Homo sapiens: one gene and its partners. The protein of the gene in region 2 interacts with the protein of the main gene of each other region in a biochemical or structural test. Each region holds a gene or a part of one and is shown on either strand. Other genes may lie near its edges.

What was found. Proteins that work in one complex are often made in the same cells at the same time.
Region 1: the proteins of CLTC (region 2) and ARRB2 form a complex in vitro, tested with the Homo sapiens proteins (3 studies listed by BioGRID and IntAct, with this or other methods).
Region 3: the proteins of CLTC (region 2) and OCRL form a complex in vitro, tested with the Homo sapiens proteins (2 studies listed by BioGRID and IntAct, with this or other methods).

The regions. Positions count from the first base shown.
Region 1 is NC_000017.11:4,713,608-4,720,633, forward strand, and holds part of ARRB2 (beta-arrestin-2), read left to right. Parts: intron 1-1,379; exon of another isoform or gene 1,380-1,405; coding exon 1,406-1,436; intron 1,437-1,578; exon of another isoform or gene 1,579-1,729; intron 1,730-2,365; coding exon 2,366-2,426; intron 2,427-2,539; coding exon 2,540-2,584; intron 2,585-2,804; coding exon 2,805-3,001; coding exon of another isoform or gene 3,002-3,064; intron 3,065-3,609; coding exon 3,610-3,669; intron 3,670-4,077; coding exon 4,078-4,145; intron 4,146-4,280; coding exon 4,281-4,416; intron 4,417-4,653; coding exon 4,654-4,738; intron 4,739-5,004; coding exon 5,005-5,077; intron 5,078-5,675; coding exon 5,676-5,813; intron 5,814-6,608; coding exon 6,609-6,692; intron 6,693-6,785; coding exon 6,786-6,865; intron 6,866-6,942; coding exon of another isoform or gene 6,943-6,978; coding exon 6,979-7,026. UniProt on the Homo sapiens protein: Functions in regulating agonist-mediated G-protein coupled receptor (GPCR) signaling by mediating both receptor desensitization and resensitization processes.
Region 2 is NC_000017.11:59,622,876-59,629,901, forward strand, and holds part of CLTC (clathrin heavy chain 1), read left to right. Parts: intron 1-7,026. UniProt on the Homo sapiens protein: Clathrin is the major protein of the polyhedral coat of coated pits and vesicles. Two different adapter protein complexes link the clathrin lattice either to the plasma membrane or to the trans-Golgi network.
Region 3 is NC_000023.11:129,557,235-129,564,260, forward strand, and holds part of OCRL (inositol polyphosphate 5-phosphatase OCRL), read left to right. Parts: intron 1-90; coding exon 91-201; intron 202-626; coding exon 627-716; intron 717-1,398; coding exon 1,399-1,519; intron 1,520-1,605; coding exon 1,606-1,767; intron 1,768-3,315; coding exon 3,316-3,417; intron 3,418-3,944; coding exon 3,945-4,059; intron 4,060-5,149; coding exon 5,150-5,266; intron 5,267-5,364; coding exon 5,365-5,552; intron 5,553-7,026. UniProt on the Homo sapiens protein: Catalyzes the hydrolysis of the 5-position phosphate of phosphatidylinositol 4,5-bisphosphate (PtdIns(4,5)P2) and phosphatidylinositol-3,4,5-bisphosphate (PtdIns(3,4,5)P3), with the greatest catalytic activity towards PtdIns(4,5)P2.

The sequences.
Region 1 (7,026 bases), about 55 Mb from region 2:
GCGACAGAGTGAGACTCCGTTTCAAAAAAAAAATTAGCCAGGCATGATGGCAGGCACCTCTAATCCCAGCTACTCAGGAAGCTGAGGCATGAGAATCGCTTGAACCCAGGAGGTGGAGGTTGCAGTGAGCTGACAGCGTGCCACTCTACTCCAGCCTTGGTGATAGAGTGAGACTCCATCTCCAAAAAAAAAAAAAAAATACAAAACATAGCCGGGCATGGTGGCTCACTCCTGTAATCCCAGCTACTCAGGAGGCTGAAGCAGGAGAATCACTTAAACCTGGGAGGCGGAGGTTGCAGTGAGCTGAGATCGCACCACTGCACTCCAGCCTGGGCAACAGAGTGAGACTCTGTCTCAAAAAACAGAGTATTACAAGAGATGACACATTTGAAACACTTGGAACAGTGCTGGGCATGGAGTAGTCACTCTGAAATGTTAGCAGCATTACCATCTTCATGATATGGCTGGCATTGTGCTGGAGATGCCTAAATTAATAAGGCCTCTGAGGCTCACAGTCTGAGGAGGGAGGGAGCTAACTATCCTTGTGTGCTACCACACCACAAGTAAAACATAAACAAGGTGTGACAGGAACCCAAAACAAGGAGCGACCAGGGTCTGGGCTGGGTCAGCTTCCTAAAGGCTGGGCCTTAAAAGACAAATAGGCTTTTAAGCTCTTGAGGTCGGAGTTGGGGACAGTTGGAGGTGAGTAGAGTCGAACTTGGGTAGGGCCTGTGGTAGAAACTATCTGAGGGCCAAAGGCCAGGGTCATTGCTCTCCTATATGCTCCAGCTGTCAGAGCTGTAGACCAGATGGAAAGATGGTTAGGTCTTATCCAGACACTGTGGCTACCTGCCCATTCGGGTCCTCTGGGAAGAGCCTGGGTGGTTCCTAGGGCAACCAGTGGCCATTACTGGGGAGGGAAGGGGACGAATGAGGGTGGACAAGACAAGGGGCATTTCCCCTTGCCACCACGTTAGAAATAGGAAGGACCTTCCGGGAAGAAGGGTTCCCCTTGCCACCACGTTAGAAATAGGAAGGACCTTCCGGGAAGAAGGGTTCCCCTTGCCACCACGTTAGAAATAGGAAGGACCTTCCGGGAAGAAGGGTTCCCCTTGCCACCACGTTAGAAATAGGAAGGACCTTCCGGGAAGAAGGGTTCCCCTTGCCACCACGTTAGAAATAGGAAGGACCTTCCGGGAAGAAGGGTTCCCCTTGCCACCACGTTAGAAATAGGAAGGACCTTCCGGGAAGAAGGGGAAAGGGGCAGAGCTGGGCAAAGCCCCACAGCCTCAGGCAGGAGGCCTGGGTGAGCACTGCTTCTCAGGCCTGGGAGGGAGAGGGTCCTGGTGTGGGGTCCCTGCTGAGTCTGAGGGAGGCAGTGGGGTTTCCCTTTCTGTTTTGTTAGGGTCTTCAAGAAGTCGAGCCCTAACTGCAAGGTGAGTCTCCACAGCACTTACCCTTTTGACCCTCCCTGGGCCCCAACAAAGCCCAGCCTTCCCCTAGACGATCCCCAACCTACCCAAAGATGATCCCCAACCCCTAGCTCCCCACTTCCTGTGACAGCTAAGCGCCGACTTCCTTCCCTCCTGAAGCCCCTTGCCGCAGAGGCTGCTCAGCCTGAGCCAGCCACAGGGCTGGGTGGGGCAGGCTTGGGTCCCCAAGCAAGACCACAGAGGAGGAGGCCAAAAGCAAGCCATGTGCCTGTAGCCCTCCTAGGAGCCAACCCAAGGTGCGTGGGGCTGGGAAAACCTAACAGCCCCCGGGCTATGGCCTATTTATCCTAGAGCCCCTTGAGGGGACCTAGTGAGGGTGGCAGCTGCTCTCTAGCTGGCTGGTTGGGCTGAGTTCTCCCCGAGGATCCAAACACACACACACACAGACACACACACACATACACACATACACACACACCTGGCTGGTTGGGCTGAGTCCTCCCTGAGGATGCAAACACACACACACGGACACACACACACACACACGGACACACACAAACACACCTCGCTGGTTGGGCTGAGTCCTCCCTGAGGACACACACAGACACACATGCACATACATGTTCACACACACACCTGACTGGTTGGCTGAGGACACACACACACACACACACACACACACACAAACACACACACACCGGGCTGGTGGGCAGAGGTGTGCAGAGATAAAGGAGCAGCTCAAAAGCCTAAAGGTCCACTAGTCTGAGAAACGCCACCACCCTCACTTTCCAACACTATTGGGAGGAAACCTGGAACAACTCCTTCCTGATAGCCCAGCCTGGAGATCCCCGGGCAGGGCAGCCAGTTTTGAGGGCTCCGATGCCCTGTCACCATCCTCCCCAATCTCCCCTGTGACCCCTTGACATCCTCAGCTCACCGTGTACTTGGGCAAGCGGGACTTCGTAGATCACCTGGACAAAGTGGACCCTGTAGGTAAGTTTTCCCAGAAAGGGACAGCTCGTTCCCCAAGAGGGGAAGAAGTTCCCGGGCCCAGGAAAGCGGGGAGCGGCCCTTTCAGGAAGTGAGCTGGTGTGTCCCCCTCCTAGATGGCGTGGTGCTTGTGGACCCTGACTACCTGAAGGACCGCAAAGGTACTGGCCCCAAGTCCAGGGGGCCCAGGGAAAGTGGGGGCTAGGGAAGTGAAATGGGCTGGCCTTGGAAGGGCGCCCCAGAGAGATGGAGGCTGGAGGTGGAAGCCAGGAGTAGGGTTCAGGCAAGTCTTATGCTGCTGAGGGAGGAGCAGCGGCTGCTAGGTGCCAGGGGACTGGGGAAGTGGGGCTCCTGACCACTCATCTCACCCTCCCTTGCCAGTGTTTGTGACCCTCACCTGCGCCTTCCGCTATGGCCGTGAAGACCTGGATGTGCTGGGCTTGTCCTTCCGCAAAGACCTGTTCATCGCCACCTACCAGGCCTTCCCCCCGGTGCCCAACCCACCCCGGCCCCCCACCCGCCTGCAGGACCGGCTGCTGAGGAAGCTGGGCCAGCATGCCCACCCCTTCTTCTTCACCGTGAGGATGCCCCTGCCCTCTGAGGGCCAGGGGGCTGGGGCTGGGACTGTGTCTGGGGTGGGGGTAAGGCACTGCTGTGGGCAGATCTGGAAGAAACAGTGAGGCAGGGACCCTAGATCCACTTCCCTTCAGGGTCCCAGTGCATTCAGGAAGCCCTTGATTATCTGCCTCCTCTCTGGGGCCCCTTCCTTCTTCCCTTCTCATCCCCAGGAGTCCTTTCTCCAGCCTCTTTTTTGTTGTTGTTGAGACAAAGTCTCGCTCTGTCGCCCAGGCTGGAGTGCAGTGGCACAATCTTGGTTCACTGCAACCTCCGCCTCCCAGGTTCAAGTGATTCTTATGCCTCAGCCTCCCGAGTAGCTGGGATTACAGGCACGCACCACCACACACGACTAATTTTGTATTTTTAGTAGTGATGGGGTTTTGCCACGTTGGTCAGGCTGGTCTGGAACCCCTGACCTCAGGTGATCCGCCCACCTTAGCCTTCCAAAGTGTTGGGATTACAGGCATGAGCCACCACACCCAGCGTCTCCAGCCTCTTAGGTTGAGATTTGGAGGAAGATCTGGGGGCTTTCTGGAAGAACTGAAGTCTTCTCCTTCCTCCGCCACAGATACCCCAGAATCTTCCATGCTCCGTCACACTGCAGCCAGGCCCAGAGGATACAGGAAAGGTACGGGAGGAACAGCTCTGAGGGCTCCTAGGGCAGGACATGGGCCAGCAGGAGCCTGGAGGCACAGCTGAGCCAGAGGGTGAACTGTCGAGATGCCAGGGTGGGGCCGAGGGTAGGCCAGTGTCCCCCGTGGAAGTGGGGCGTATGTGGTGGTCATTGTGCACGCATGACACTGCCTCCTGCTCTGTGGACCCGCATGGATCTGGGGATGGGGGCTCCCCTTGCACTACCATGACCAAGCCTCTGCCAGGTTCTGGGCTTTGGAGAGGAAGAAGACTTAGTCCCCAGGGTCGTGAGACCACAATGAGGCAAGAGTCCCTGCCCGAGAGGAGGGAAGGGGGAGGAAGAAAGGGCAGTGATGGTGGCGGGAGCCTCCGGTAAGATGTGGCCTTTTCTCCCCTCCCCGAGGCCTGCGGCGTAGACTTTGAGATTCGAGCCTTCTGTGCTAAATCACTAGAAGAGAAAAGCCACAAAAGGTAAGGGAAGTGACCTCCTCTGTGGTGTAAGAGGAGGCTTTCCTCCCCGCTTCCAGGAGCCCAGGCCCCGTGCGGGGGAGGAGTAGGGTTGGGGTGTGTGAGGAATGACCCCTCCTGCCCCTACTCTGATCCCAGGAACTCTGTGCGGCTGGTGATCCGAAAGGTGCAGTTCGCCCCGGAGAAACCCGGCCCCCAGCCTTCAGCCGAAACCACACGCCACTTCCTCATGTCTGACCGGTCCCTGCACCTCGAGGCTTCCCTGGACAAGGAGGTGGGGCGTGAGAGGGTGACACGGATGCCACGGTGCAGTTTAGACCCTGGGGGAGGGGCGAAGCCACACATCAAGAGGACATTTGTAAAGGAGGTTGCCTTGGCTGGGTGTGGACAGTTGCCGTGGGCTTGGGTTTGAGGGGAGGGGGCCAGAACAATGTGTCTGTGTTTGGGGACACACTGATGATGGGAACAGTGAAAACCAGTTCCAATTCACATGACCCCCTCCCCCCAAAAGCTGTACTACCATGGGGAGCCCCTCAATGTAAATGTCCACGTCACCAACAACTCCACCAAGACCGTCAAGAAGATCAAAGTCTCTGGTAGGAGGTGGGGTTTGGAAGGGGGTCTTCGGGGAGGGCGTTACTGCACAGGTGGCTCCTGGTGTGATCTCAGCCCAGGCCATTTCCCAGTGCGGGAGACCCACCAGGGCTCAAAGAATTTAGGTTGTTCCATAATGATACGGGGAGCCTCGGTGTTTACTGCTTCAGTGGGGAGCATGGGGGGGCCACGCCACGGGGTCTGGAGTTGTGGTGTGGTGGTGGCTTGTGCTCCATCCAGAGCTGCCTGACCCCGTCCCACCCCACAGTGAGACAGTACGCCGACATCTGCCTCTTCAGCACCGCCCAGTACAAGTGTCCTGTGGCTCAACTCGAACAAGAGTGAGTATCGGGAGAGACCCATGTTCCAATCTAGGGGAGAAGAGCAGGATCAGGAGAATGTGAGGTGGAGGAAGAATTCTTCCTGAGCCATCTCCACCTTTTTTTTTTTTTTTGAGATGGAGTTTTTGCTCTTGTTGCCCAGCCTGGAGTGCAATGGGGCAACCTCTGCTCACTGCAACCTCCACCTCCCGGGTTCAAGCGATTCTCCTGCCTCAGCCTCCCACGTAGCTGGGACTACAGGCATGCACCACCATACCCGGCTTATTTTTAATAGAGACGAGGTTTCACCATGTTGGCCAAGCTAGTTGCGAACCCCTGACCTCAAGTGACCCACCCGTCGCGGCCTCTCAAAGTGCTGGGATTACAGGCGTGAGCCGCCGCGACCGGCCACCATCTTCACTTAAAAGGGTATTCCCTCCACAGCCAGGCTCCAGGCTGTTAATTTTCTTGAGCACGTTGAGCCAAAACCTACTCCCTTGTGACCTGTGCCCAAAGAAACAAGGGACTAGTGAGGGGGAGATGCTGCTTGGGGGTCATAGGCCGCCCCTTGCCCAGCCCAGCGCCCCTAAGCATCTTGTTCTCTTGTCCCCACCCCCAGTGACCAGGTATCTCCCAGCTCCACATTCTGTAAGGTGTACACCATAACCCCACTGCTCAGCGACAACCGGGAGAAGCGGGGTCTCGCCCTGGATGGGAAACTCAAGCACGAGGACACCAACCTGGCTTCCAGCACCATGTGAGGGTGGGGCTGGGGCGGGTCCCCTGCAGGCCAGGGGCCAGACGTCGGTTCAGTGCTCTATCCTAGTGTGCCAGGGATGTATCAGTGAACAGAAGAGACAAAAAGAACTCTTACATTCTAGGGGAGGGAGGATAGCCAAATCTGATCAGTGGTCACTGTACAGCAGGTTTAGTGACAAGTATGAAGGAGAAAAAGCCAGGCAGAGAAGGAAGGGATGGGGGGCAGTGAGGTGCGAAGGTGAATTCGGAGTAAGGACCCAGCGGAAGTAAGCAATGTGGGTGAGCAGGAAAGGAGGGTTCTGGGCAGAGAGAAAACAAAGACTCAGAGGTGGGGCAGCCTGGGGTGTTGGAGGAATGGGGAGGTGCCATCGTGCCCTCGGGCAGGAGCAGCCCTGGAGGTCCCCAGCTTCACAAAGGGCTGGATTTCACCTCTCCGGATGCCTTTGTTCAGGGTTCTCACTGCACAGCCACACACAGCAGGCCCGGAGGGCAACTTAGGGAGAAGAACTAAGTACCAGGAGAGGAGGAGGAGGTGAGGTCAGGGGCTAATGGAGAGCCAGACGGTGCAAGGCTGTTAGCGGAGAAGGACGTCAGCTTTTCCTGGAGAGGAGCCAAGGAGGCTCTGAGCAGGGAGTGCAGTGCGCACTGTACCATAACCGCACGGCCTGGGCTGCTGGGGCCCTGGGGGCCTGTGCGAGTTTGTGGTCCTGCCCAGAGTCCCCGTGGGAACCCCACGGTGGGCCAGGTGACAGGGTGATAGGCCCTGGTCTGACTCCAACACCCTCAATTGCAGCGTGAAGGAGGGTGCCAACAAGGAGGTGCTGGGAATCCTGGTGTCCTACAGGGTCAAGGTGAAGCTGGTGGTGTCTCGAGGCGGGTGAGTGTCATGGGGGAGCCTGGGTGGGGGTCACACTGGCTCTCTCTAGTCCCATGTCGTCGTCCTCTTCACGATGCCTCTCCCCTTCCCCAGGGATGTCTCTGTGGAGCTGCCTTTTGTTCTTATGCACCCCAAGCCCCACGACCACATCCCCCTCCCCAGACCCCAGTCAGGTGAGCACACTACCCACCCCAAGCCCTCAGAGGGAGGGCCTGAAGCAGGGCCAGTGGAGGAAAACTGGCCCTTCCAGCACCCACCCCCACACCCCCTCTTCCCGTCCCCCCAGCCGCTCCGGAGACAGATGTCCCTGTGGACACCAACCTCATTGAATTTG
Region 2 (7,026 bases):
GATCTCTTGTCATCAAAGCTTGGACCTACAGCAAATGAATGTGAATATATGAAGATTTCTCTTTTCCTAGACTGTTTAGACTGATAGCAGTTAATAAATGAGTGCCTATTTGAGCAAGATACTGTTGGAATTGAAGATTCTATAAAAATCCTAGGCTACATATATAAAATATTGCCTGTGATTCTTAATTTTTTGGTGATTTTCAATTTTCTGGCACATTAAGTATCTTTAGGCCACTTGACACATTCCATTGTATTCCTAGATTCTTTGGGTCTTCAATTAAAAATCTCCCTACCCTGTTCTTTCCCCTTTGATCCATAGATGCAGGCATGGAATGTGTTGTTGAGTCAAATGTTAGGGGTTCTTGCTATAGTTAGTTCGGATTGTGAATAGAAAGCAATGCTAAGTACTGGGATTTACTACATGCTTAGTTGTACTCTCTGGAAGAGGTAGACTTCCTGGAATTATGCGGCAGTCTCCTGGGAATAGCTTCTAAGTTTAAAATGTATCATATTCTTCAGAATTTTCTTGATGGTCAGTTTACCCAGCTTAAAGTGTGTGGTTAATTTTAGTGAAAGTGCTTTCACTCTGATTAGGAAATAAGACACAGAATGGTGTGTATGTAGAACACAATCATTTTCATTTGAGTATTTAGGAAAATTCACATTTCAGGAACCATGGTAGTTGCTCTTGAACAATTGTTTCTGACCATAATTGGAATTTGTACCTTGCTTTTAAAAGATTCCATTTATATCGAATCCTCAGCTTCTTTGCAAAATTGTTTTTTCCATACATATGTTTATATGTTATTCAAATTATATTTAACAAGGTGTTTTCCCTGTCATTGTTACCGTTGTGGCTTTTTCTCTTTGAGTTATTGTCCAGTAGAACTTTCTTCAATGATGGAACTGTCTACCAGCTACATAGGGATATTGAGCACTTGAAATGTGGCTGATGTGACTGAAAAACTAAATTTTTGCTTTAATTTCTTTTTAATTTAAATGTAAATAGCCACATGTGACAATTGACTCCTACATTGGACTGCACAATTATAGGCCATGCTGATGTGTTTTGTAAGTTTGAAGATTTATCTCACCACTCATGTTTATGTATTTAGAATATTTCGTTAGCTAAAATTAAAACACTCATTGTTCAAAAGTTTTAACTGAATACTGTCTGTCTTGGAAAGTGGTGGTGATGAACAATGACTAGCAGCAGACTTCTTGAGACCTTATTATGTGCTGTAAATTTGGCTAGGTACTTTCAGATCTTCACTCAATCCCCCCAGACACCTTTCTAAAAAGTGAGACTCATAAAGTAGTGGGAATGCTGTCCGAATGGGATGTGTACCTGAGTCTTCTGACACAAAATATTTCAAAGAAATTGGATAATTGACCTTAAAAAAAGAAGTTATACAGTATCCTAGAGTGCTTTTTGTCTGTTGGACTTAGGCCCAGAGAGGTGAGTTCTCTCTACTTGTTTATAGATTAACAATGTGGTATAGTAGACAGAACAGGGAGGGCTTTAGGGGTTGTTGAAACAAATGCTGTCCAATAGAAAAATAATATGAGCCACATACTTTTTTTTTTTTTTTTTTTTTTTTTGAGACAGAGTCTCACTCTGTCCTCTGTCACCTAGACTAGTGTGCAGTGGTGCGATCTCGGCTCACAGCAACCTCCACCTGCCAGGTTCAAGTGATTCTCCTGCCTCAGCCTCCCAAGTAGCTGGGATTTTAGGTGTCTGCCACCATGCCTGGCTAATTTTTCCATTTTTAGTAGAGATGGGGTTTTACCATGTTGGCCAGGCTGGTCTTCAACTCCTGACTTCAAATGATCTGCCCACCTCGACCTCCCAAAGTGCTGGGATTATAGGCATGAGCTGCTGCTCCTGGCCTCATATAAATAATTTTTTAAGTTTTCTAGCAGCCATATTAAAAGTGAAAAAACATAAAATTAATTAATTTTGGGTTTTTTTGGTAGAGACAGAGTCTTGCTATATTGCTCAGGCTGGTCTCAAATTATTGGGCTCAAGTGATCTGCTCGCCTTGGCCTCCCAAAGTGCTGGGATTACAGGCGTGAGTCACCATGCCATGCCCAGATAAAATTAAATTTAATATATTTTATTTAACTTGGGATATGCAAAATATTATTTCAATATGTAATCAGTATAAAATTTACTAATGAGATACCTTACATTCTTTTTCATACTAAATTTTCTAAATCTAGTGTGTGTGGTTTTTTTTTCTTTTTTTTTGAGACAAAGTCTCACTCTGTCGCCAGGCTGGAGTGCAATGGTGGATCTCGGCTCATTGCAACCTCCGCCTTCCAGGTTCAAGTGATTCTTCTGCCTCTGCCTCCCGAGTCGCTGGGACTACAGGCGCGTGCTACCACGCCCAGCTATTTTTTTTTTATTTTTATTTTTTGGTATTTTTAGTAAAGATGGGGTTTCACCATGTTGGTCAGGATGGTCTCAATCTCTTGACCTCGTGAAATGCCTGCCTCGGCCTCCCGAAGTGTTAGGATTACAGGTGTGAGCCACCGTGCCCGGCTATGTATATTTTGTACTTAGAGCATATATCAATTCAGACCCTATTTTCTTTGGAAATCCTGGTCCGTATTTAGAGTTCATAAAATTTACAGTTAGAAAGGCAGATTTGGGGCTGGGGGTAGTGGCTCATGCCTGTAAACTCAGCACTTTGTGAGCCAAGGTAGGAGCATTGTTTGAGCCCAGGAATTCAAGACCAGCCTGGGTAACAGAGTTAAGACCTCGTCTCTATATTAAACAAACAAAAATGAAGAAAAAGGAAAGCAGATATGCAATACTTCAGTGATCCCAAACATACTTAAGTTTTCCAGTAATTGAATCACTTACTGGTTATTATTTAATTTTAATTACTTTAAAATTACGGTAACCACATTTCAAGTGCTCATTATGGTATGTAGGTTGTGACTTGTGGTTACCATATTGGACAACACAGGTTAAGTCTAACCTCTTGCTTTTTTTTCTCTGGGAAATGGGCATACTTATCTCACAAAGTTATTATGAGGATCTGAGATCATGTATGTGAAAGTACTTTACGTAGCATTTTAGGAGCATTAATTATTGGCTAAATAATTTTTGTCCAGTACATTTTATTCAGGTATCTCAACCAATGACACAATATTCATTTACAGATCCAGTGTTTTATGGTGTATAAGTATTTGGGGTTAACACATTTACCTAAGATTTGAGTACTTACTGCAGATGAGGAACTGTGTTAGACTCTAGGGACAAGGTGGTAAACAAGATGGACTACACCTTGCATTCATGCTTCCATTGATGAGTTGGCAAAGGCTGTACACTTGTTATTCCAACCATTGATGTTGTCTACTTGATTGTGGATCTTTTATGTGTTCGAACATTTGATATTGTGCACAGTTTAATACAAATATTGATATGATACAAAGTTGATTACACTCTGAAACTGCCCCCCAAAAAGAAACTTTTAAATAAATCTTTTATTATGTTCCACGAGTCTCATTGTGTGCCACTGGTACATTTTAAATTAGGGTTCCTTGAACAGACATATTTGAAAAAAAAACTTAATGAATCATATCGGATAAAATACCCATATGGAATGCCGGTCAGGCGATTGTTAGAGTTATTGTATGTGTTGTATGTGTCCTTTTTTAGGGTGGTAGTGTTGAAGTGAATCTTCTCACTTAGATGAGCAGTAGGTTCATGGCTGATATTTTAGTCCTGTATATTAGAATGAGGCTGTTTCTCTAAGTTCATGCACTATATGCCATGCCAAAACTACTTCATGAAATAAACCTGTCTTCTGAGCCACAGCAAAGTTTACAGCTCTGGGTGTCTTGTCTTTGCTTCTTGGTTAAGTGCCTATGGCTAATGCTCTTAACTCAAAAGATGGCTGAAAGCTTGGACCTAAATGTGTTATGCAAAACCCATCTGTCAGACTTTTGTGAGTCTCTTCTTTTGTATTATCTCCTTAAATTAAGACATAATTTAAGATATTTTTGTCCTACTTTTTTTGGGGGGTGGGGACAGGGTCTCACTCTGTTGCCCAGGCTGGAGTGCAGTGGCATGATCAAGGCTCACTGCAGCCTTGACCTCCCTGGGCTTAGGTAATCCTCCCACCTCTGCTCCCTAAATAGCTGGGACTACAGGCGTGCGCCACCAAACCCGGCTAATTTTTGTATTTTTTTTGTAGAGTCGGGGTTTTGCCATGTTTCCCAGGATGGTCTCAAAATCCCGGGCTCAAGCAGTCCACCTGCCACAGCCTCCCAAAGTGCTGAAATTACAAGTGTGAGACACCAAGCCTTGTCCTATTTTTGAGGCAGTAACTATTCAAATCTTAATTGTCCTGTAATCTAATCCATAAAATCAAAATACATGGGCCATTATAGTTGTTTGAGCACCTATTACGTGCCAAGAACTGTATTAAATATTTAATGTTTATTATCTCATTTAATTAGCAAGAGAACCCTTGTGCTTAGGTCAGATTAGCCTTATTGTAGAGATTGGGCAACTGAAGTTCATAGTAGGTAACTTTTAGAGTCACACAGCTAGTGAGCAGTCAGACTTTTAATATTTATTCTTTCATTTGGCTCATTGCCTCATTTGGTAAATGGTCTGTATCATTTGAATTGCAAAATGTACCACAATTGTTTATATCTATGCTGTGATGTTCTTTGATTCTAGTAGTACTGTCGTTTGTTTATCGTGAAATATTTTTTATATTATGAGAAAAGTAGGAGACAGCAAACTAACATCTGACTTTATGCCTTGAATGATTATTTAGCTGTATCTTTTTTAAGGACTTTATCCTGTTTCCTATTGGAAAATTGTGCAGGATGATTGGGATCCGGTTAACTTGTAACCAGGATTGTCTGCATCCCTCTCATAAGACTGAACTTGTCACACTTTTCTATAGACTTTTTCTTACTGAAAAGAATGAGTGTGTTCCAGTCTGAAGCCACTTGTGAAAGGAGGAAACTTCTGCTTTCTATTTTACTGTAAATTCATGTTTTTGTGTTTATGCCAAGAAATAGAAGCTTGAACTCAACGAAGGCAGTTGTGCATGAAAGGGATAGGAAATGAAGGTGACAATGGAATATATTTGCTCATTTTGAGTAGCATCATGGTAGAAAGGAAAATGGTTACAGACTTGTAGGGTTGTGCTTTGGAGGCAGACTGCCAGTACTGTTAATACTTCTTGTTCCTAATCCTTAGGTAAATAAGGATTTTCTTCAAGTTCTGAAGTAAGACGGTTTTAAAGATTATTGCTGAAAGAATAGGAACCAGATCCATTAAAGCCATATTTTGTCACATTAAAAAACTCTGCAGTGTGCTATTCTGGAAAATGTCTCAGATGTTTAATCTGGGCTTATCTATTGATTATGTCAGGTTTTCAACTTGTCTCAACTTCCTCATTTATTAAAACAATATTTCCTGGCAATTTTAAAGTTAGACTACAGTATGTTTTTGTATTTGTAGTATAATATTTAGCCCCTTAACCCCTTACAGGCACTCGAATATTAGTTCTTCCCCTCCACCCTGGAAGAGTTTCCCTTTGTCCACTTGAGTTGAATATATGTGCCGTACTAAAGGAGAAAAACTACCATCTACCCAGTTATTGAAGCCAAGATCTTGAAGTTACACCAGACTCTCTAATTTCTCATTTTCTGCATCCGTCGATTTCTGGAGTTCCTCAGTGATGCACACTGGGGGTCTCAGGGATGACAGTTTTTCATGACCCTAGGTTGAAACTGGGAGTCATAGAAGACGAAAAAACGAGAATTGGATTGGGAGTTGACTCTGTTGCCCAGGCTGGAGTACGGTGGTGCAATCTTGGTTCACTGCAACTTCCGCCTCCCAGGTTCAAGCAATTCTCCTGCCTCAGCCTCCTGAGTAGCTGGGACTACAGGGGCCCGCCACCAGGCCTGGCGAATTTTTTTTGTATTTTTAGTAGAGATGGGGTTTCACCATGTTGGCCAGGCTGGTCTCAAACTCCTGACCTCAAATAATCTACCCTCCTCAGCTTCCCAAAGTGCTGGGATTACAGGCGTGAGCCATCGTGCCTGGCCAACTTGCATTTATTTCTGATTAGCTGCTCATCTGAGAAAGGTGGCTTAAAAAAAACCACCAAAGTGGACAGACTGAAGCTAAAGACTGTCAGTATATATGCTCTGCTTGGCAAACAGCTGACTTTGGATAGATCTCATTATTTAAAGATGAATAATAAGGGGGAAAAACGTGTAGAGAGAACATGGTTTACAAAAACCCATCTCTTTCTCCAGTCTCTGCAATATTCTATATTTGGTCATATTGAACTATGAAAATCTAAGGCAGGTTTCTTTATTTTACCACAGATATCCTCAGGAAAGAGTCTCCTTATTAAAAGCCTTACTGAATCTCCATAGTATTGTGTCCTCTCACAGTTGCTTCTGTTCTGAGCACCAGAATGCTGTTTGGCAAAGGCTGCTGTAGGCTTGAAATCAACTGGATTAGTGAGAGACAAATTTTACACATCTAAAATTCTCCTGTGTATGGCCTCACAGTTGGAACTGTTGGATGTTATAAGCAGATGATTTAAATATCCCGTGAAAAGCAGTCCATTCGGGCATGTTTCTAGAGATCATAATTTTTTTTTTTTTTTTTTTTGAGATGGAGTCTTGCTCTGTCGCCCAGGCTGGAGTACAGTGGCATGATCTTGGCTCACTGCAACTTCTGCCTCCCGGGTTCAAGCGGTTCTTCTGCCTAAGCCTCCCAAGTAGCTGGGATTACAGGTGCCCGCCACCATGCCTGGCTGATTTTTGTAATTTTAGTACAGATGGGATTTCACCATGTTGTCCAGGTTGGTGTTGAACTCCTGACCTTGTGATCCGCCTGCTTTGGCCTCCCAAAGTGCTGGGATTACAGGCATGAGCCACCACACCCAGCCTAGAGATCATAATTTACATAGAAAGATAAGAGAAAAACAACTCTCCTGATAACGCAAATAGATTTGATGTTACAAAACTGCAC
Region 3 (7,026 bases), on a different chromosome or scaffold from region 2:
TTCTTCTGTTAACCTGATAAGTTGAGAATATGATCCCAGTAAAACATTTTATCCCATAGCAGTATATGTATGGATTTCAATTCTTTTTAGGTGGCTGCAAAATTCGGGTTCAGGGGGACTGGATCAGAGAGCGCCGCTTTGAAATCCCTGATGAGGAACACTGTTTGAAGTTCCTCTCAGCTGTCCTTGCTGCTCAGAAAGGTAACTAAAGACTCAGCGATTTTCTTTCTTCTATTTCAACGGGAGTGGAATTCTGACATGCTGATACAGAGGAAAGTGGCCATTGGCAAAATACCTCACCCTTTAAGCCCTGATAGCTGATTTTTTTTTCTTCAGGAGTGAACACAGGGATAGGTTAGGGAAAAAATCTGCCCAGCTTTAAGGACACTAGGCAAGTTTTCAGAATATTCAGTGTCATGGCAAGCACAGCTTACCATAGACTATAATTCTCCTTCTGCCCCTAGATGACCCCAGAGCTGCCCTCATTTCCTTAGTTTCTTCCACTGTATCCAAAAATGGTGCTGGCCCCTGCATATAAGGAATGTTGAAAGAATGGCTTTTGGCTATAGTAAATTCTACTCAGTGAAAGACTTCCCAGTTTCTGACCATGAACCTTATCTCTCTAGCTCAGTCACAGCTTCTTGTTCCAGAGCAAAAGGACTCATCTAGCTGGTACCAGAAATTAGACACTAAGGACAAACCTTCTGTTTTTTCAGGTACTAAAAAGTTCCTGGTTTCCTTGTTGCTATGGTCATTGCAGAGTCAGTAGATTTTGTCAGGCCAAATATGGTGATGTAGATTAAAGCTGATGTCAGACACATTCTCCTGCAGAGTAGTTTTATCAAGTCCAGGCCCACTGACCAGTGTTCACTCCTTATCCTTCCTGTAGCATGGTAGCTGTTCAGGAGCCAGCTTAGCAGGGTGGTAGAAAGTACAAGCTCGAGAGCCAGACAGCCTGGATTTGAATCCCAAGTCAAGAACTTACTAGTTGTACAACCTTCATCAAGTTACTCAACAACTCTGAACTTCCCTTTTCCTTTCTGTAATATGGGAAGATTTTTAATAGTACTTACTTCTTGGAGTTTTTGTGATGATTAAGTGAGATCATGATATAGTCCCTTACTCTCAACCAGGCATTGTGCTCAGTCTTCAATAAATGTTAGCTATTACTAGTCTGTTCCAAGTTCTTATAAACTTCTATTGTTCTAGTTAGTATATCAGTGCTTCAGGGATAGGTATGCTTCTTCGAACTCCAATCCAAGTAATTTCTACCCTTATGATAGTTTTCTGTTTAGTAATACCACTGATCAAATTGTGATCAAATCAAAGCCCTGTTACCCTGGATATGTTGGATGTTAGATTTTTTCCCCGTTTGACTTTGGGGTCTGTGTCTTTCAGGGCTTCTTGGATTTGAAGACAATTTTTCTTCTATGAATTTGGACAAGAAAATAAATTCACAAAATCAGCCTACTGGGATTCATCGGGAACCCCCACCTCCACCCTTTTCAGTGAATAAAATGTAAGTCCCATGTGAAAACATATTTGCCTTGTAGGAGAATTATAGTTTAAACAATTTTACTTTTGAATCTCTCATTTATTTGCTAGGCTTCCACGTGAAAAAGAAGCTTCTAACAAGGAGCAGCCCAAAGTGACCAACACCATGCGGAAGCTCTTTGTACCAAATACCCAATCTGGGCAGCGGGAGGGTCTCATCAAACATATCCTGGCAAAGCGAGAGAAAGAATATGTCAACATTCAGACTTTCAGGTTAGTGTCTCTTTTGCTTCCTGAGTCTAAAAAGTTAGTATATATAACAGACAGTGGCCTGTTGATATTTAAGACATTAGCCTAATTAAGAATCAAAATATGATAAAAAGGAATGGTTGCCTGTTTCAAGCTCCTGTCTCTATGCTGGCCAATAACATGCATATCAGAAATAATGCAGATGCTACAGTTTCCCTTGGATTTTCTTTTTTTGTGTGTGTGGGTCAGGGTCTCTCTTTGTCACCCAGGCTGGAGAGCAGATAGATCATGGCTTACTGTAGCCTCAACCTCTCAGTCGTAAGCAATCCTCCCACGCCAGCCCTGCAAGTAGGTGGAACTACAGGTGCACACCACCACATCCAGCTAATATTTGTGTTTTTTATAGAGACTGGGTTTCACCAGGTTGCCCAGGCTGGTCTCAAATTCCTGAGCTCAGGCAATCCACCCGCCTTGGCCTCACAAAGTGTTAGGATTACAGGCTTGAGCCACCGTGCTTGGCCTTCCCTTGGATTTTCTAACTACTAATAATGCCATGTCTACTAATGTCTCTACTGAGTCCTAGAGAACCAAATCAAGGTCACATGTACTAGAGAATTTTCCCCTAGCACATTCCATAAGCAAGCGTGTTTATATATCTGGCCTGTTAAGTTTTTTTTTTTCAGCCAATATTAGAAAATTAAAGTCCATCATTACCACTAGCTCTTAACTTACTTACTTTGGTAAATAAAGAAAGTTTCACCCAGTCCTCTTGATTGGGAGGTCTATCTTGGGTTCTTTTATCTGTATTATTTTTTATTTCATCTTTTTTCTGGACTTGTGTGTGTATGCTGCATGTGAGGTACCATGTGGCATGTATCGCCAATGCATGAAGCAACACCACATTTCTTTGTTATTCATGAGCAGAATGTACCCTTCTAGTCCAAGATTCTAGTCCCATCTGCTATCCTGTCATACCTCATTTATTCTAATTCAGTCATAACTATATCCCTATGCTAAAACTTGCAGTTCCTCATATCCCCCACTATGCTTATATTTGTGTGTAAACAGTTAAGACAGTCATGAGTTTTCCCTTCTGCTTTCCCCCTTAATACTATGTCTGCCTCATCAGAATTTCCTACACAGATGTCCTTGTAATCCTTCAGGAAGTGAGTTCCTGGAGTCAACTATAGCCCCTTATAGAACATTTATCCATATTTGACTAGCTTACAGCATGAAGATACCTCTTTCCCATCCATAAGCTCTCCTATCAAGTATGAGTTTGGATGGAGCTTAATTGAAAGGAAATGTGGTATAGCAATTACCTTTGCATTTTTTAAAAATAAAGACTTGGTTTCCTTCTGTAGTTTTACTTAATGTAAAATTTAGAGAAAATAAGCCCACTGCCTTTGTGTTCTAGATGCAAAAGATCTTTCTTACATATGTGGCAAAACATTTTGAGGAATTATGTTAGCATATTGTGAACATACCTTTGTATGGAAGCGAAAAGAAAGAACTTCTGTTGGTTTATACTTGATCTTTGTTTTCAAATTATCTTTTCGTATTATGTATTAGATTTTTTGTTGGAACTTGGAATGTGAATGGCCAGTCTCCAGATAGCGGGTTAGAACCTTGGCTGAACTGTGATCCCAATCCTCCTGATATCTACTGCATTGGGTAAAGAACACTTCTGGAATTTCCTTTTGGCTATATGTTTGGTGTTCATTTACATGATGTTTTGCCTTTTTTAAAAAAGACTGTTGGTAAAACCTACTGTAGACTATACACGAGAGTTAACTTGCGGGTCAAATTTGTGAGAACAGAAATGAACAGATACCTAAAATGGTGTAAGGAAGCATCTAATTTTCTTGAAACCCGTAGGAATCTATATATTCTGCATAGAAACTAAGACTTGGGGTCAGTTCTAACAGTGACAGTTCCTAGGATATAAGAGCAAAGCTCTGCTGTTATCCTCTGTGGGAGGTATTTTGATTTATTTTTTGCATAGCTTATGAATGTACTTGTGGGAATTCTTTAGAAAAGAAAGCTACTTGTTCTTACTGATAACCTGGGTGAACAGAGCAGTTCTATAAAATTTATCTCTCTCCCATCTTTTTTTCATCTAATGTTTCAACATATGGGACAGGAGGTAGCCAGAGATAATTATGGGATATGTATAGATCTCATATCCCTTTTTTCCTCAGATTCCAAGAACTGGACTTGAGCACAGAAGCCTTCTTCTACTTTGAATCTGTGAAGGAACAAGAATGGTCCATGGCTGTAGAGAGAGGTTTGCATTCCAAAGCCAAGTATAAGAAAGTAAGCCGCATTTAATTATCTTTTTAAGTGTATGACTAAATAGGGCTCACCGGGAGTTATTCCATTATCTACAACTTGTTCCAAAAGAATAGTTTAATTGAATTCTTCTCTGTGTGTAATACTGGGATAGGGCAGATTGATCATTCATCCTTATTTCCTAGAAAAAAAAATCCCTAAGCTTTCTGATACTATATTTTCATTGCTTAGATAGCTTTTAGGGGAAAAAAGAATTTTATTATGCTTATATCAATACTTAGTTTGAAATAATTACATATAAGATTTAGATTACTCACTGACATGGTCAGAATTGAATGCTTTACAGAAAAGCAATATGAAACGTGGGCGCATGGTGCATGTGTTGCAATCAGAGCAAGAATAGAAGTGGTGTGGAATTTGAACGAGTTCTAAACTTGGTTTTAAGTTAAGAGGAGAGTTGACTTTAGCAAGATGGGCCAATTTGTTTGTCTTTAGAAGGTATGTGGTAAAGGCATTTAGCTACCAGAAGAGTTAATTACAGGGCTATCATACTAAGGTCTCTAAAAGAAGTAATGTGAGTAATTTTTCTCTACATCTTCTAACAGTTTATATAGGTAATAAAACTCCTGGGGATGTTATTCCTCTCATATAGGTCCCTGACTAATGTATATCTCAGACATATTTCTAGCTGTAGTTCACAAGTTAAAAATAAGTAAAAAAGATTGCTGTTTGGTTGATTTCAATTTCTTAGAAAATTAGACATCAGAAACTAGGAAGGAAAGGTGGAAGGAACAAGCTGGGATAGTGGCTTTATTATTTGAACTTTTAATGCTGCTTACTCCTGGTAGGCTAAGAAGTGATTAAAAGAATAGATCTAGAGCTGAAAGTACTCATTGTCCCTCCCAGCTTTTAACTCTTATTGGTCAGTGCCAGATTAGAGCCTCCCCAGAGAATATTAGTTTCCACTTGACGGGGTCCACTGAGAAATTAGAGGATATGAAGTCAGATTTGGGCACTAGTATATCATCTTGATGGAAAATTAGTCGTGGGACATTAGAAATGTGGCAAAGATTGGTATTAACATTAACCTTTTGTAACTCCCCGGAACTCATAGGTTCAACTGGTGCGCCTTGTTGGGATGATGCTTCTTATATTTGCCAGAAAGGATCAGTGTCGATACATTCGTGATATTGCTACAGAAACAGTTGGAACTGGAATCATGGGGAAAATGGTGAGTTACTTTGGAAATGAGCTTGATTATTATTCATGTTCATGTAAAGTTCAGTTGCTTGTTCTGTGTACTAATTGAATAATTACTCTTGCTAACAGGGAAACAAAGGTGGGGTAGCTGTGAGATTTGTATTTCACAACACCACCTTTTGCATTGTCAATTCCCATCTGGCTGCACACGTGGAGGACTTTGAGAGAAGGAATCAAGATTATAAGGACATTTGTGCGAGAATGAGTTTTGTGGTCCCAAATCAGACCCTCCCGCAGTTGAACATCATGAAACATGAGTAAGTGGTTAACTCACCTGTAGCCTTTGAGTAGTGGCTACAGGAGTTTGGATAGTGTAGAGATTAAATGTGAGATACTGTAGAGCTGTGAAGAGTGAAAGATTACCAGTGAGGGATTGGGGTCACAAAGGAGAGGGTTTTTGAGTAATAACAGAATCATTGAGGCAGAGAAATTAGACTTGATATCAGAGGAAAAGATAGTTCTATTAGTGGGGCACCTAGAATAATGCTGGAGGGTCTGTAGTTGGAGTCAGTTTTTATTGTTTTTATGATAAAATAGAAATATTCATTGCAAATGTAATAAAAGATAAAATTAGAAGTTAAATTTCCTCATTTCTTATTCTCTACCTAGCCAGTCCCTCTCTCCAAAGGAAACCATTCTTAACAGTTGGGTGTGTAGCCTTTTAGATCTGTACTGTCCAATATGACAACCAGTAGCCATATATGGCTGTTAGGTACCTGAAAGTGACTGGTCCAAATTAAGATATGCTGTATGCATAAGCTATATATTGGATTTTAAAGACTTAGGAAGAAGATGTACGATATCTTGATTTCTAAAATATTGATCACATGTTGAAATAATTTGGATATATTGAGTAAAATGAAATTTATTGATACTCACTTGTTTTTTTTCTTTTTAAATGCAGCTACTAGAAAACTTAAAATTATATTGTGAGGTGCATTATAATTCTATTAAATAGCACTATTCTAGCCTTTTGTCTATTCATATACAAACACACACATAGGTACTTGGTGTATAAGACTGTATTATTCTATTTATTGTGGATTCCTTTCCAAGCCAGTATATATAGATCTACATTATTCTTTTTAATGGCTGTGCTTATTAAAAACAGGGGCAGCAGAGAGAGGTCAGTGAAGAATGGGATTTAATAAGCATAGAAGCAGAGATGTGTTGAGGAGTAGATGTGGTGGTAGAAAATGATTAGTTTTAAAGAAATTAATATACCTAAAACCATGAAAACCCTAGAAGAAAACCTAGGCATTACCATTCAGGACATAGGCATGGGCAAGGACTTCATGTCTAAAACACCAAAAGCAATGGCAACAAAAGCCAAAATTGACAAATGGGATCTAATTCAACTAAAGAGCTTCTGCACAGCAAAAGAAACTACCATCAGAGTGAACAGGCAACCTACAAAATGGGAGAAAATTTTCGCAACCTACTCATCTGACAAAGGGCTAATATCCAGAATCTACAATGAACTCAAACAAATTTACAAGAAAAAAACAACCCCATCAAAAAGTGGGCAAAGGACATGAACAGACACTTCTCAAAAGAAGACATTTATGCAGCCAAAAAACACATGAAAAAATGCTCACCATCACTGGCCATCAGAGAAACGCAAATCAAAACCACAATGAGATACCATCTCACACCAGTTAGAATGGCAATCATTAAAAAGTCAGGAGACAACAGGTGCTGGAGAGGATGTGGAGAAATAGGAACACTTTT